Linked DNA regions of Homo sapiens: region 2 is linked to region 1. Evidence: fine-mapped expression QTL. Tissue or cell type: whole blood. Region 1 holds a variant in brackets; the other region holds the start of a gene. All regions are shown on one strand. Distances are between the middles of the regions.

Region 1 (8,109 bases):
ATGATTAAAATTCTTTTAAAAATACGTATTTATGTAGTGTTCATTGGATAAAAGAAATACAGAAAATATAAAGAAGGAAGAAAAACCAATAAAACACATAATATAAAGCAGAAAAAGACCACTGTAAAAAAGTGTTTATCTTTCCACATTTTTTTCTAAGTATATAGAGACAAATATAACATAAAAATGAAATCATCCCCTAAGGTGGTTTTATTAGCTACTTTAACATTTAAAACATATCATGAATATATTTGTCTGTGTCTGTAAATATAGATCCAGGATTATTGCAAATAGCTTCATACACCCCATTATAAAGATGTGTTCTTATTCAAAATCTACACTTGAAAATAAAAATTATAAGTATATAAATATACACATATACTAAAAAGTGGTAGGCAACAGATACTTAGTACTTTTTCCGTAAATTTTATTATTACCTTATATTCTTCACATGCAATTGGGACAAATGGCCAGAGAAAGATATATTTTAGATGTGTAAGTTAATTAACTATAAACTGTAAGAGTACATCATAGTAGCTATACATGTGATTAACAAGCTAGTCACAATCATTCTTTTTATTTTATAAACACAAACTATTATAAATACAAAATAAGAAAAAGATAGTTAAATGTTAGCTGTTATGAAGAGTGAAAACATTATATAAATTTCAAACGGCTGCTTTCTGCATCTGCATCAGTATAATTTCATGATTTTCTACCAAGTTCATTTGTATAAAGAATCTCTATGATCAATTTATCATTCACTTTCATGCCCCCACATGGAAAGTGGTAGGTGAATATCTGTAGGAATACAATTTATTGTCTGCTTGTCCACTGAAAAGTAGCCCTGTGTCCCTATCCAGTCTACACTCAGAACTTTGTCTTCATGAGCAGCCAGATCATACAACTTCTTGTATCCCACAACTTGACAATGTTATCTAAAGATCCTGAAATCAGTTGCTGTTCATGGGTAGGAGACCATTTTACTAATGTCACGCAACCTGTATTTGAAGTTAGGGACAGTGACACCAAAGAATGGTCTTTAGTTCGGGGATCCCACAGTCTGGTATGCCTATCTGTGCTTCCAGATGCTAAACGTTTACAAAGTTGGAGAATGGGAAATACAATTAAGCACTTTATTTCCTGTCAAAGCTTGCCTTCAGACTGTCAGACTCAACATCCTACACTCTAATTGTATGGTCCCAAGATGCACTGCAGATTTCTTCAGCATCTGACCACAGAACTGAGGAAATTGCTTCCTTGTGACCAGAGAGGGTCACTATGGGAGTCATAGCTGCTCTGTGTTCTCTGTCGATTTGTGGATTCCTCCATTTCATCTTCTTCTTCTGTAGGGACTGTAGACCAGATCTTTAGCATCTTATCCCAGGAGCCACTACAAAATTTAGTTCCTGAGCTATCAACAGCTATAGACTCTGCACTTCCAGCATGACCTCTGCAGCACGGTCGGGCTTTCACTTTGTTTCTCTCTATTCCACTCCCATAAGAGAATAGTTGGATCCATAGAGGCACTCACAAATAAGCAAGACAAACTATCTTTTTTTTTGGCCCAGGCCACATCTTTTAAGACATCCCTATGTCCAACAATTGTCATTATTGACTTTCTTTCCAAGGACCGGATTTGAGAGGTCTTATCATAAGAACCAGTCAAGATCCATTCCTTTGCCCCTTTAACTGAAAGGATCCAGTCATCATGGAACATGCATTGCTCTGGCTGGGGTGCTGTGTACTTCACATATTCTATTTCCACAACTACTTCTGATGACATGTTCTCCAGTTCCATGTGTTTGACCAAGGACATTCGCAGAAACTGGCCCTTAATAAGGAAATAAAACTCCATATGTTTGTGGAACTCATTTTTGTCCTTTAGTAATTTATTGATGATGTTACTAAGGTCAGCAAATTCAGAGGCGGCAGGGATTGAGAAGGAAACATCATTTACAGCATATTTCTTGTTATCGGTGTAGAAATGTGTTTGGAGCTGAGCCAAGGCAAGGAGTACACACAAGACTTTTGGGTTAGTAGAGAGAGAATGGGAGCTCCTGTCTCTTAACTACAAAGAGGCCGCTCAAAATTAGACTGCACAGGTAAGCGAGAAGCTGCAGTCTAAGCCTGGACTCTGCTTTTCCTCCTTGGGTCTGCTCCACCCACAATCATTCTTTCTAAGGAGCCATGAGTCTGTCTATGGAGTCTCCAATCTGCAGGTTATCACTCATAAGTACATTCTAACAATATATGTGCATCAGTGTACATTCTACTTTTGTATTCTTTAAGTAGCAAATAAGCAGTTTCTATGTGAATTTTGTTAAACTTTGGGTGAATTTCAAACAAATAGTAAAATAGAGATACTTGCAAAATGAAATTTCATGTATCCATCACCTGGCTTCAACATGATCAATTCGTGGCTAATTTTGTTTCTTCTCTATCCACTATGCCATCCCTTATTATTTTGTTTTGTTATCATTTTTTTTGTTTTTTGAGATAGGGTATTACTCTGTCACCCAGGCTGAAGTGCAGTGGCGTGGTCATGGCTCACTGCAGGCTTAACCTCCTGGACTCAAGCTATCCTCCCACCTCAGCCTCCCAAGTAGCTAGGACTACAGGTACACACCACCATACCCAGCTAATTTGTTTCTTTTTTGTAGAGACAGAGTCTCCCTATGTTGCACAGGCTGGTCTCAAACTCCCAGGCTCAAGCGATATTCCCACCTCGGCCTCCCAAAGTGTAGGGATTACAGGTGTGAACCGCTGCTCCTGGCGCCCTTAGTATTATAAAGTAATCCCAGTTATCACATTATTTCATCCACAAACATTTCAGTATGGGTCTTTAAAAGATAGGGAGTTCCTTTTTCTTCAACATAACCACAGAACCATTATGACTTGTGAAATATTTTTGATGTGTTTCAGAGAAGAGAGTCCCATTATTATAATCCAAAATGACTAAACATACATTTTTTCTCAAAACAGAAGGTTTTCTGGTTGTTATACTAACCTTCCACAGAGATCTTAAGACTTGTAAGGATGAAATATTTGTTTGAATACTGAGAATGATAAAAAATGTTTTTTAAATAAAAAAAAAACTAAGGAAATATTTGGCTTTACGTGATCATTTTATGATGTGAAATGATCTCAAAAGCTTTTTAGGAAATGACCCTTTAAAGATATGTATGTCTTCTTCTAAAAGTTTGACTGACTTAAAGTAAAATTAAAAAAAAAAGTTTGACTGCTTCTATCAGGTGTGACATTAAGGAGATAAAATAGCTAATGACTCTGCATTTGAAATTTAATTTAAACAGAAATAGTCATCAATTAATAATGTTGCTCAATTTCTGGGAAGAGAGAAGTCCAAGGTTTTTAAGCCCTCATTTAAAAAAAACAGATAGTTTAAAAAATCCTGATCCTTAAACCTGGACATATACTTTCTTGTTTGATGCCACATGAGGTGTATTTAGGGTATGGGAGGATTTGCTTTGCGTGGCCCCGAACTGAAAATCAAAGGACCACCTGAGAGCTAAATTTTTAGGTAAGCGTTGGCTGGTCCTTATCATGTATAAGTATTAATGCATGTAGTCAGCCTATACAATTCATTTTCATGTAACATTTATTTTATGTCTTCCACGTGTGATGCACTTTTCTTGGCCCTTTCATGTGCACTTGTTCATATAATTTCAGCAACAACCCTCTGGAAAAGGTATAATAATTCACAGTGACTGAGGCTCAGCAAAGTTATTGCCTAAGATGATGCATATAATGGATGGTGGAGCAAGGATTCAAACCCCG[A/G]TGTTCTTTTCACCATTGCACGCTGCCTATTGGCAGAAACAGTAAATAGTAAACAAATGGAACAGTTATTTTAATTTAAATGTGTCTGATGAAAATAGAGACATGAGTACAATATACTTTTGTTCAAAATATGCCACTAAAAGCACCCCATTTGCTAAAAGCTCTCAAAAAATGTAAACATTTTCTCAGGGTTAATTCATATATCACTTCTTTCTGTATTCTCCGTCTCTTGGAATTCTCTTTGTTTCAGCCATCACTTCTGTGCCACAATTGCTGAAATGCTTGTGTCTAACCACCACATCTCACTTGATTTCCAGCTAGAAATTCTGTTCAACTCTCCTACCTGAATGTCTTCATGGCATATGAAACTCCATATATCCAAATATTTCTTCTCTCAATTCTCCCAACCCTTACTTTCTCTTATTTTACCTATTTATAATAAAAGCATAAGTATTTTCTCAGGAAACTAAGCCTAGAATCTTGGTTACAGTTTTTTGTTTTTTTTTCTCACGTCTGTTGTTAGGTACTGGATCTTTTAAGTCCCATCTATACTGTCTTATAACCATTCCTTAACATTTCTACCGCTATCAACCTAGCTCATTGTTTTCTTTTTTTTAAAAAAAGAGATAAATTAATCTTAATGACATTTAGAAACAGGTAAAGGATATAAATAGCAAATGGGTTTTTTTTTTTCTTTTTAGATGGAGTCTTGCTTTGTCACCCAGGCTGGAGTGCAATGGCACGATCTCGCCTCACTGCAACCTCTGCTTCCTGGGTTCAAGTGATTCTCCTGCCTCAGCCTCCCGAGTAGCCGGGATTACAGGCGCCTGCCACCACACCTGGCTAATTTTTGTATTTTTATTAGAGATGGTGTTTCATCATGTTGGCCAGGCTGGTCTCGAACTCCTGACCTTGTGATCCGCCCACCTCGGCCCCCCAAAGTGTTGGGATTACAGGCATGAGCCACCTTGCCTGGCCAATAGTAAACAGTTTTAAAGGTAGGCTATGTTATGAAAAGCATCCCTGTCTTCTAGGTCCAGTTCCCTTCTATAGAAACAACCATGATTAACCGGTTTCTTGTGTATTCTTCCATAGATGTTATAAACATATACAGACAGATATCATATATAGATACATGTATTTTCCCCCCACAGATGATTGCATTCTATATATATATATAGTTTTATATTGACCTTTTTCTTTAACTTAATATATCTTAGACATCATTTCAGATCAGTACATGTAATAGAAAAGATAGCTATCATTTTTGAGTGCACACTATGTACCAAGAACTGTTCTAAGCACTCTTCATAATTGTCTCATGCACTCCTTGTACTGATCCTGTGAGGCATGTAGGTATGATTACTATCTCCATTCAAGAACTGAGAAAACAGGTGTACAGAGATGTTTTTTGAGCTTCACAAAGACTCACAGGTATTAGGATTAAGCTGGGGATCAAACCCATGCAGAAAAGGTTTCACCAACTGCCTCTTCCACATGTCAGCTCCAGTCACCTCCTGGCTTCATCTCAGAGGCAGTGGAACCATGTAGCTGCCCAGCCTCACTCCCTGAGCAAGTGTGATCTCCTCTGACTCTTCCTATCAGCTAGGAATCTGTCTGCAGGCATTTATTCTAACCTTTCATGAGGTCCAGTCCTGGGAACCCCACCGCTACACTTCAGTCAGGTGTCACTTGTCTCTGTGTCTCCTTGAAAACCTTGCATAATGCCTGGGACTTGTAGTGGGCCAAGCAAATAGTTTGTCTTGTTTTCCCTTTTAAGTTTTAGTCTCTTTGGTCAGAAAATTAGGACTCTCCTTAAACTGCAACTTTTTTCACTTAGAGCTATGTTAGATGGGAAGCAATATTTACTAATTTAAGGATTTTAGAAAAAGATAATGTTAAGGCTGACCAAAACATGTTGCCAGACTCGTGGGCTGGGGATCTCTTGTACCTGTGTACCCTTTGAAGTAAGAATCATAGCTGAAGATCCTATTTGACAGAGGAGAAACTGAAGTTTGGAGACTATAGCTTCTGAATGAAACATTGTGATGGTTAATACTGAGTGTCAACTTGATTGGATTGAAAGATACGAAGTACTAATCCTGGGTGTGTCTGTGAGGGTGTTGTCAAAGGAGATTAACATTTGACTCAGTGGACTGGGAAAGGCAGACCTGCCTTTAATCTGGATGGGCACAATCTAATCAGCTGCCAGCAAAGCCAGAATAAAAAGCAGGCAGAAGAACATGAAAAGACTATAGTGGCTTATCCTCCCAGCCTCTATCTTTCTCCCATGATGGATGCTTCCTACCCTCAAACATCAGACTCCAAGTTCTTCACCTTTAGGAATCAGACTGGCTTCCTTGCTTCTCAGCTTGCAGATGGCGTGTTATGGGACCTTGTGATCATGTGAGTTAATACTCCTTAGTAAACTCCCCTTTATATATATATATATCCCATTAGTTCTGTCCCTCTAGAGAACCCTGACTAATACAGATTTTGGTACCAGAAGTGGTTCTAGAGGAACAGAATATTAAGGATGGAGTTCTTTTATTGGTTTTGGGGTTTCTGGAGTTGGCTGCTTAATGTGATTAGACCAAAAAATGCTAAAGGTTCTTTTTCTTTCTTTTTTTTTTTTTTTTGAGATGGAGTCTCGCTCTGTCACCCACGCTGGAGTGCAGTGGCGCGATCTCTGCTCACTGCAAGCTCTGACTCCTGGGTTCACGGCATTCTGCCACCTCAGCCTCCCAAGTATCTGGGACTACAGGCGACCGCCACCACGCCCAGCTAATTTTTTGTATTTTTAGTAGAGACGGGGTTTCACCATGTTAGCCAGGATGGTCTCGATCTCCTGACCTCATGACCCTCCCGCCTTGGCCTGCCAAAGTGCTGGGATGACAGTCGTGAGCCACAGTGCCCGGCCTAAGAATTCTATTTCTAATAGTATGGAGAACACCCATAGTCCTTGGCATGAACTGTTTAGAGAGTTATGCAAAATAAATGCATCTGATACTCCTGATTCACTGCTCGTGAGAGGCAAGGAGTTTAGTGACTTGAAACATAATACCTTTGACCATATGTGGAGAACCAAGGAACATAATAAAGCTGGTTGGTTGCTCCTACGTTCACTGGACAAAGTGATGAAAGAAAAATGATGAGCTCAGGGATTCATTTTCAGCTTCAGAAGTAGTACTGAGCCTCACACCTGCTAGATTACCCTGTGTAAGAGTCTTATCTCCTATAGAGAAAGAGCTGAAATTGTGGAAAAATAGACACAAGCTCTTATCATGTGAGTGGCTGACCTGCAACGAAAGGTGCATGCACAGCCTTTCCAGGTGTCTACTGTTAAAGTGAGGGGATTGACTGGAAAAGAATGGGACCCTGCAACTTGGAATGGGGATGTGTGGTGGAGGGCCTAATGAAGCTGGGGACACTGAGCTTGTTAACTCTGATGAACCTTTTTTGCCAGAAGAAACAGCTTCTTCATCCCCAGTAGTGGCAACATCCCCTCCCCAACACATGCTGCCATCAGCCTTTCCACCTTTGTCTGAGGAGATAAACCATGCGCTGCCTGGAGGCAACAGTGATGGCCTCCTCTGAGGCAGTTGCCAGGCAAAATAACGTTGATTCTCCTCAGGAGCCACCCCCAACACCCCTGTTTGCTTCTAGACCTATACCTAGACTAAAGTCCCAGCAGACCCCTAGAGGTGAGGTTCAGAGTGACCCTTGAGGAGATGTGCTACACTAGAAAAGAACTGCTTGAGTTTTCTAATTTATATAAGCAGAAATCTGGAGAAGAGTCATAGGAATGGATATTAAGGGTGTGAGATAATGGCGGAAGGAATATAGAGTTGGATCAGGCTGGACTTATTGATTTGAACCCACTAAGTAGAGATTCTGCTTTTGATGTTGCAGCTCAGGGAGTTAAAAAAGGTTTTAATGGTTCTAATAGTTTATTTGCTTGGTTAGCTGAAATATGGATAAAAGATGGCCCACTGTGAGCAAGCTGGAAATGCCTGATCTCTCTCAGTTTAATGTAGAGGAAGGGATCCAAAAGTTTAGGGAGATTGGATGCTGGAGTGGATTGGTCACTTTGGACCTACCCATCCCAGCTGGGAGGGTCCAGAAGATACACCCTTGACCAACGCTTTGCGAAATGGATTTGTGATGGCGGCAACTGCATCTCTGAAGAGTCCTGTAATTGCTCTTCTCTGTATGTCAGATCTAACGGTGGGAACAACAGTCACTCCACCACAAAATTTATAGGCCCAGAAACCCTTGAATGAAGGGGAGGCTGGGTCCCCTTGAAAAGGA
Region 2 (8,109 bases), 330 kb before region 1:
ATTGTTCTGTCTCCTTGTGTTTATCACTGCAGTCTGCTTATGTAACTGGTAACCCTGTCATCATTGATGGAGGCTGGAGCTTGTGATTTTAGGATCTCCATGGTGGGAAGGAAGGCAGGCCCTTCCTATCCACAGTGAACCTGGTTACGAAGAAAACTCACCAATCATCTCCTTCCTGTTAATCACATGTTAATGAAAATAAGCTCTTTTTAATGATGTCACTGTTTGCAAGAGTCTGATTCTTTAAGTATATTAATCTCTTTGTAATCTCTTCTGAAATCATTGTAAAGAAATAAAAATATTGAACTCATAGCAGGAGAATAGTTTTTAAAATAAATCTCGATTTGTTAGCATCTGTCTTAGTCACTTTGGGCTGCTATAACAAATTACCATAGATGGAGTGTCATAGACAACAAACATTTATTTTTCAGTCTGGAGGCTAGGAAGTGCAAGATAAAGGTGCCAGCAGATATAGTTTCTGGTTAGGGCCCACTTCCTGGTTTGCAGATGGTCCTCTTCTTGCTGTATCCTCACATAGCAAGAGCAGAGAAAAAAAGCGAGCGCTCATGTGTCTTTTTATAAGGACACTAATCCTGTTCATGAGGGCACTACCCTTATGACCTGATTACCTCCCAAAGGCCCCACCTCCTAATGTATCATATTGCAGGTTAGGATGTCAACACATGACTCTGGGGTGATACAAATAGGCCATTGCAGCATATACAATTAAAATGTAAATATGAAGAAAAAAGGAAGTTTTTGTTTTTTTGTGGGGGAGATGGGGGTTAAGGAAGAAGATAGTAATTTCAGGACTAGGCATGGTAGCTCATGCCTATAATTCCTGCACTTTGGGAGGCCAAGGCAGGAGGATCACTTGCGGCCAGGAGTTCAGGACCAGCATGGTTAACAGAGGCTAAGGCAGGAGGATTACTTGAGCCCAAGAGTTTGAGGCTGCAGTGAGCTGTAATCATGCCACTGCACTCCAGGGTGACAGAGCAAGACCCTGTACCTAAATAATAATAATAATTTCCACTTCATTTTTCAATATTCAAATATTTTTATATAATTCTGCATTGTTCTGTATGTAGATCCTAATTTTAAAATTTTACACCATCATAAATGAACAAAGGTAGGAAGGAGTTTGGCTTCAATAGCTTACAGTAAAAGGAGTAAAGGAGTTCAGCCTCAAAACGATATTGTTGACCTGTTATGTTATGAAAAATAATCCAGTGTTTATACTTAACGGATGCCATCCCTTATTATTTACTATTTTCTTAGTCTAACTAAACAATCTTTATTAAAATAAGCAATGATATTTGACATGGGCCTAAGAAATATATAGTTAGCTAACAATATTGTCAGTTAGAGGGATTTCTTTTCTAAATTAAGTACAGATTTCTTCACCAAACTCCAGGATAACAGAAAAGAGGACATAAAATTTGGACATAGTTTCTGGATAAATAAATGTAAATTTAAATATAAATTATGTAACAGGAAACAAACGAAATTAAAGAAAATAAATTTTTCAAGAAAAGTAAATTTATGGATGTTAATTCTGTAACATTGTCAGGGCAAAGTTTTTTGTTTTTATTTTAATTTAAGGGTTTTATGTTTGTTTTTTACTTGTTGCAACCTCAAATGACCAAATGGTATGATGCACACTGAGATACTCAATAAATGTGCAGTGATTCTTAGCCTTTTTTCCTAGAACTTTAATATTAACATGGAAAATTCTGAAATGGACAACAAAAAGATAACACTTTGTGTATGGGGAAGAATATCATGCAGTTGATGACGGTACATTAAAATTCACACAAAAGGACATTTTGACTAGCATTCAGAAAGAGTCCATTGATTATAAGATTATCTATGAGGTTTTGGACCGGGCACTACACTACCGAATTATGGCTAACTTTGGTTTGTGATCTAGACCAAGTCACCCAATCTATCTTGGATTTTAGTTTTCTGGTTTATGAAATTAAGGAGTTAAGCTAAATGACTTGGGTTTCTTTTCGTGTATCATAATCAAAATGCTGTAACTTCTCTAGTGAATTCATAGAACACTGACTCTTACAAGTATGTCATGAAATACTTTATGCTGTGAGCAGGTATACATGTATAATATATGTATAGCTATGAACAAATAAATTTTAAATAAATGCACAACGAATTCTACAAAATGGGCTCCAACATTAACAAATGATCTGAGTTAGTCTTTCTCACAGCCGACCATAAACTATAAAACATTTTTATAAACACTATCAGCAATAAAAACGAAGTAAAATCTAGCCAAAAAATTCAATGTTCTCCAAAGTCATGTTAATCAAATCAGGTGATATATTAATGAAGTACATATGACTAAAAGGAAAAATATATGTCATTCCTGTGGTAAGAGGAAGCTGAATGTCACTAGAAATTTTTACAAGCTTTAGGAGAGGAAGAGTTCCGTTTAGGAAAATAATCATTTCAGATGATCTGAAGAAGGGTATTGGATGGAACCTATCCAATAGGTTCATCACAAAAGAGGACCTGAGAGACAAGAATGAATGGTTTCTGACTGGTGGAGAAATTTGAGGATAATCTCCCTTGCTTGAAAAGCGGTGATTAAGATTGGCACTTGCTTACAGGAGTGAAAAACAGGTAAGGGGTGCGCGCGTCTTAACACACACAAGAGGAAATACAGAGAAAAGGAAGACACAAACATGAAATGAGAATTAAATGAAATAGAATCACACTGCTGATAGAAGGGTTAAAAATCTAAAATACAACAAGAAGGGCAGGTGTTAAGCGATAAAGGGGGGCAGAACAAGTCTTTTATCCGGCCATTTAATTGGTCACCTTAAGAAAGAATCCTATCTTCCCACCGCAGCTGAGAAGACACTTCTAAGAGGTACAGCTAAAAGGTGGAGGACTGATAGACAACTTAGAGGTTGGTTTCGGGAACGATAAAACAAGTAACGGGCTGCCCGGCCTGCGCCGCGGAGTCCCGAGGAGCCTGCGCTGTGCTCCTCTCGCGGTGTCTCGTCATCTCCGGGAAGACTCGGCGCCTGGGTCCGCGCTCTCTGGGTAAGCTTTCCGGGAAGCTTTCCCGGGAGCTCGCTGGTCCTGGCCCCAGAAGCCTGCGGACCCGCCCAGGGAGGATAAGCAGCTGAAAGACCGCGCGGTGCCGCTCCGAGGCCCCGGGACGTGGGCCCATGGTCGGCCTGGCGCCACCTTTCCGGGGGAAGCCACGCGCACCAGGCATCGCACGCGGCTCTGCACCCGCGCCGCCGGACCTGAAACCCGGCGGAGGGCACACGGGGCTGCCGCTGCGGGCCCCGGACCAACCCATGCTTACTCCGGAGCCTGTACCGGCGCCGACGGGTCGGACCTCCCTGCGCGGTGTCGCCCAGCGGGTTCGTGCGAAAGGCGGGGCCGACTACACGCGGTGCCGCGCCCTGAGACCGTTTATCTGCAGTCAACGCAGCCTCCCGGCTCAGCCTGGGAAGATGCGCGAATCGGGAACCCCAGAGCGCGGTGGCTAGACCGGGCTCCGCCGCCTCCCCCACAGCCCCTTTCCTAATCGTTCAGACGGAGCCTGGTCGACTTCGCCGGAGACTGCCAGGTGAGAGGCCCCAGAGACACTAAGGGTAAAAATAAACCCAGCGCCAGCGGCGGGTACCCTGTAGGCCTGCTGGACCGGAGACGCGAGCGAGGGGCCCAGCCTTTTCTGTTTGTACACCCGGTGACGGGCGCGTGTCTGTTTACTGTTGTAAGGTGTTGGCGTGGGTTTTCTTGCTTGCTTTTATTTTAGTTCTCAGATTAACCAGAGGGGGTGTTGCCTTTGTGGACTGGGTTAGCATCCTCGAGGTGCTAAGAATCATCGTATGCTATTGACTGAAGAATATAACCTTAAGACAGCAGTAGCTGCTGTAAGAGATAAAGTAAAACATCTCAGTAACTAAACATAGTTCAGGCTTATTTCTCGTTCATGTCAAGTCCATTCACGTGTTCAGCTGTTGGCCTTCTACTCAATTATTCAGGAACCCAAACTCCTTTTATATTATGGCTTTGCTATCCCCTAAGACCTTGGAGTCCTTAGTTTCCAGGCAACGGACAGAAAAAGAAAAGCTACTAGAGGATTGCATGAGGATTGTTTCTTATGGGTGAGGACTGGAAATCACATACTATTTATGTCCACATGCCATTGACCAGACTTCAGTCACATGCCACACTGACCTGCAAGGGAGACTGGAAATGTACTATGGACCCAGGCAGAAGAGTAAACGATTTTGGTAAACACATATCAGTCTCTGACCATCCCTTAAAGGGCAGACTGCATCTTAGTCATCTTTGTTACTCTTGTGCCTATCACACCAGAGAAACTTGTTAAGGCTTTGTGAGGCCGAGGTGGGCATATCACCTGAGGTCAGGAGTTCGAGACCAGCCTAGCCAACATGGTAAAACCCCATCTCTACTAAAAATATAAAAATTAGCTGGGCATGGTGGTGCACGCCCGTAATTCCAGCTATTCCGGAGGCTGAGGCTGAAGAATCGCTTGAACCCAGGAGGCACAGGTTGCAGTGAGCCAAGATTGTGCCACTGCACTCCAGCCTAGGTGACAGAGCAAGACTCCATCTCAGAAAAGAAAAAAAAGGAAATGAAACTTGTTAAGGGATGGGGTTGTTATGTGTCTAAAGTTGAAACTTAACCATATTTCATTGTGATTGCTTAGGAATCATTTATCATCCTTTATCATCCTGTAACTAGATTACAAGATCTGAATATAGGAACTATTTAAGACCGTTCACTTCTGAATCCTCAGCTCAAGGACTGGGACGTAACAAGAGCTTAATAGCTCTTGTTTGTTGAATGAATGAATGAATCATCAGAGAGGAAAACGAGGGAGACAGTTTGTCAATGTTGGAGTTAGGAAATACTGAGAAGGTGACATTTGAGTTAGATTTTGAATTTCTTCAAGTAGAAAAAGCAGAAATGAAACTCCAGGCAGCAATAGTAGTGATATTTTATTGTTGTTGTTTTGTTTCATGAGTGGAAATTTGGAAAACAACCAAACGTTTATAAGTCCAACTTTTCTTCATTCAGTATTCAAATATTACAATTTAACTTCAGGGTAGAGGAGGGGAAATACATAATCTTACAATCCAAATAATTTCTGTTGACTAAAAGAATGGCAGTGAAAACCTTGGCACTAATTTTTAACTTTATAAAATGTTATTTTCTGGACATTTTTGAGAAATTTCAATACAAAGGCAGTGTTCTGATCATTCATTGTCTATGATGATTTTGCACTGTAACAAGAAGCTAGAAAGATAGAAACTAAAGTTTGTAAGACAGAGGTTCCTCATCACTGCTGTTCATCAGGGCTTCTCAGGGATGGTTCTGCAACAAAATCACCTGTTATATTGGTTAGGATGCTTTTGGCTGCAAGTAACAGGATATTCAGCCAAAACTCCCTTCAAAAATACAGATGTACTTTGCTCATACATGAAGATGTTTGAAGGTAGGTGGGTCCAGGGTTTGTTCAGTAGCTCAGTAATATCAGGGCTCTATGTTGCTTTCTGTGTTCAGCTAATCTTGACTTTTCTTCATGGGTGAATGATGGCTGCTAGAATTGTCCCAAGAAACCCATCCACAATCCCAACTTCCCTTGCCTCTTTACCTGGTCATTTAAAGACAAAAAGAGGAGAGGATTTTCCTCCTCTCTCTCTGTCTTTATTAAGAAGGAAAATCTTATGTAATATGCCCCAATAGTCTTGCCTACAAATTCCAATGGCAAGAAATGAATCATGCTCACTCCTTAGCCAATAAGTGGCAAAGAGGAATGGTGTTACAGAGATTGATTTACACCAATAATGACTTATCCCTAGGGCGGGAGAAGGGTCCTACTGGCATACCTGAACACTTGGCATTTAGACAGGCCATAAGTCATGTCTGTCCCACTTGGGGTAGATTCGGTCTCTGTAGATTCTGATTTTAGTGGGCCTAGAAATAATATTTTAAACTTTTAGTAAGTATATTTCACTTTGGTGAGGAGAGAGAATAGAAAGGATGAAAGCAAGTATTGGGTCCCTTATGTAGGGGTAATTTCCTTTTATTCTTATCTCATTATATAGTGTTTTCCTTCATGAGTCAATGAAATTACTAAATCAATTAACCAAATAAAATAGCGGTTGTTTTCCTTTGGTAACTTGGCCACATGTATTTGACACACCTAAGTCTTTCAGATAAGGTAGTTCTCATTCAGGGAAACACTGTTAGTCATTTTAGTAATTAATTGTCTAAGAAAGTGTTAAGCCCTACTCTGAGCCTGATCTGAATTCCTCATTGCTGGGTAGGGCTCCTTTTGGGAAATGACCATTAGATCAGTGTTGATAAGCAAATACAGAAACTGGAATGTTTCTGTATGTTCTATGTAGAAATACTGTATGAGACTGAGAACCTATACGTTCAACACATGAATGGATGAACACAAAGGCAGGAGATTGTTGTTATTATTATCATTATAGAGTATTGAACAATCATAGTGATGCTCTTTCAAAGGCATGAATACAACCCAGAGTACTCTAGCAATGTCTTAGTCCATTTTTGTTACTGTAACAAAATACCACAAACTAATTAATTTATAAATAATCAAATTTATTTCTCACAGTTCTGGAGGCTGGGAAGTCCTAGGTCAAGGTGCTAATTAGATTTGATGTCTGTTACACACTTGATCTCTGCTTGCAAGATGGTGCCTTCTTGCCATGTCTTCTTCACATGGAGGAAGAGACTAATGCTGTGTTCTCAGATGGTGGAAGGGAAAGAGCCAAAGGGACTAGGCTGCTCCCTTTGACCTCTTTTATAAGAGCACTAGTCCCATTCATGAGGGTTGAGTGCTGGTGACTTAATCACTTCCCCAAAGTACCTCCCTCTTAATACCATCACCTTGGCAGTTACATTCCAAAATCTGAATTTTGGAGGGACACAAACATTCAAGCCATAGCAAGCAATATATGTAAATTCTCCATAAGATTACTCCTTTAAATGTCAGCCTATCCAAATCACAGGCAGCAAATAGCAAGAATAAAAAGTCTTTATCCATATCTTTTAGCAGTAACTGAAATGATAGCAGTAAGTCTATTTTACTTGACCGAGAGCCTACGGACATTTGTAAGTTGATAGTTCCTTTATTTCTTCTGGAATATTACAGAAAGTACTTGTAAACATTTACATTAGTAAGATAATATGAAAAAGAGAACATTTAACAAATATCTCTCTATGTGAAAACATATTTACAGAAATGGTTTCCAAAGTATGCTCCACTTGCCAGAAGGAACAGGGGTGAGTAGACAGGGCTCCTGCAGCGCCACCTTAGTCGTTCCATTTGTAGGATTTAAGGATTAGGTTTCATTTGATGAAAGATATTTGACATAAAGATATGAAGACCAGGGCTGGGTGCGGTGGCTCACGCCTGTAATCCCAGCACTTTGGGAGGCCAAGGCGGGCAGATCATGAGGTCAGGAGTTTGAGACCAGCCTGGCCAACATGGTGAAACCCCATCTCTACTAAAAATAGAAAAAGTAGCTGGGCATGGTGGCCGGCACCTTTAATCCCAGCTACTCGGGAGGCTGAGGCAGGAGAATAGCTTGAAACCGGAAGGCAGAGGTTGCAGTGAGCTGAGATCTCGCCACTGCACTCCAGCCTGGGCAAAAGAGCGAAACTCCACCTCAAAAAAAAAAAAAAAAAAAACATGAAAGCCAAACTTGAAAATTTTGAAAACCACTGCTATTGGTGATTCTGGGCAGTTACTCATCTTCTTTGAAAAATCACAACTACAAAAAATGATTTTAAATTGTGGCAGGTGTTATTAAGTTACCTCAAATCAAATCACCAGACTGTATCTATGAGAAATATTACCAAGAAATGTGGTACCATTTTCTTTTCTCTAAAGCTTTAGGAATTGAGTAGATTATTTTTAAATGTATTTAAAATTAGGGCCAGGCAGGGTGGCTCACATCTCTAATCCCAGCACTTTAGGAGGCCAAGGCCAGTGGATCACTTGAGGTCAGGAGTTTGAGACCATTCTGGCCAACATAGTGAAACCCATCCCTATTAAAAATACAAAAA

What was found. PIP is the estimated chance that this variant, and not a neighbour inherited with it, causes the effect.
Region 2: it holds the start of SLC9B2, and the variant in region 1 is fine-mapped to the expression of SLC9B2 in whole blood (INTERVAL, PIP 0.99).

Annotation. Positions count from the first base shown.
Region 1 is chr4:102,745,300-102,753,408 of GRCh38, reverse strand. The region is part of intron 1 of MANBA (mannosidase beta); the gene reads left to right. It also overlaps the pseudogene WDR12P1. Among named protein-coding and RNA genes, the nearest start is that of MANBA, 12 kb to the left of the region's middle. The variant A/G (reference allele first, on the strand shown) is at 3,799.
Region 2 is chr4:103,071,679-103,079,787 of GRCh38, reverse strand. SLC9B2 (solute carrier family 9 member B2) reads left to right here and starts at 3,027. Exons shown (of 12, transcript NM_178833.7): 1 at 3,027-3,604. BDH2 (3-hydroxybutyrate dehydrogenase 2) reads left to right here. Exons shown (of 10, transcript NM_020139.4): 10 at 33-2,196. The coding sequence ends at 86. RefSeq lists an enhancer at 3,028-3,147 and a silencer at 3,258-3,367.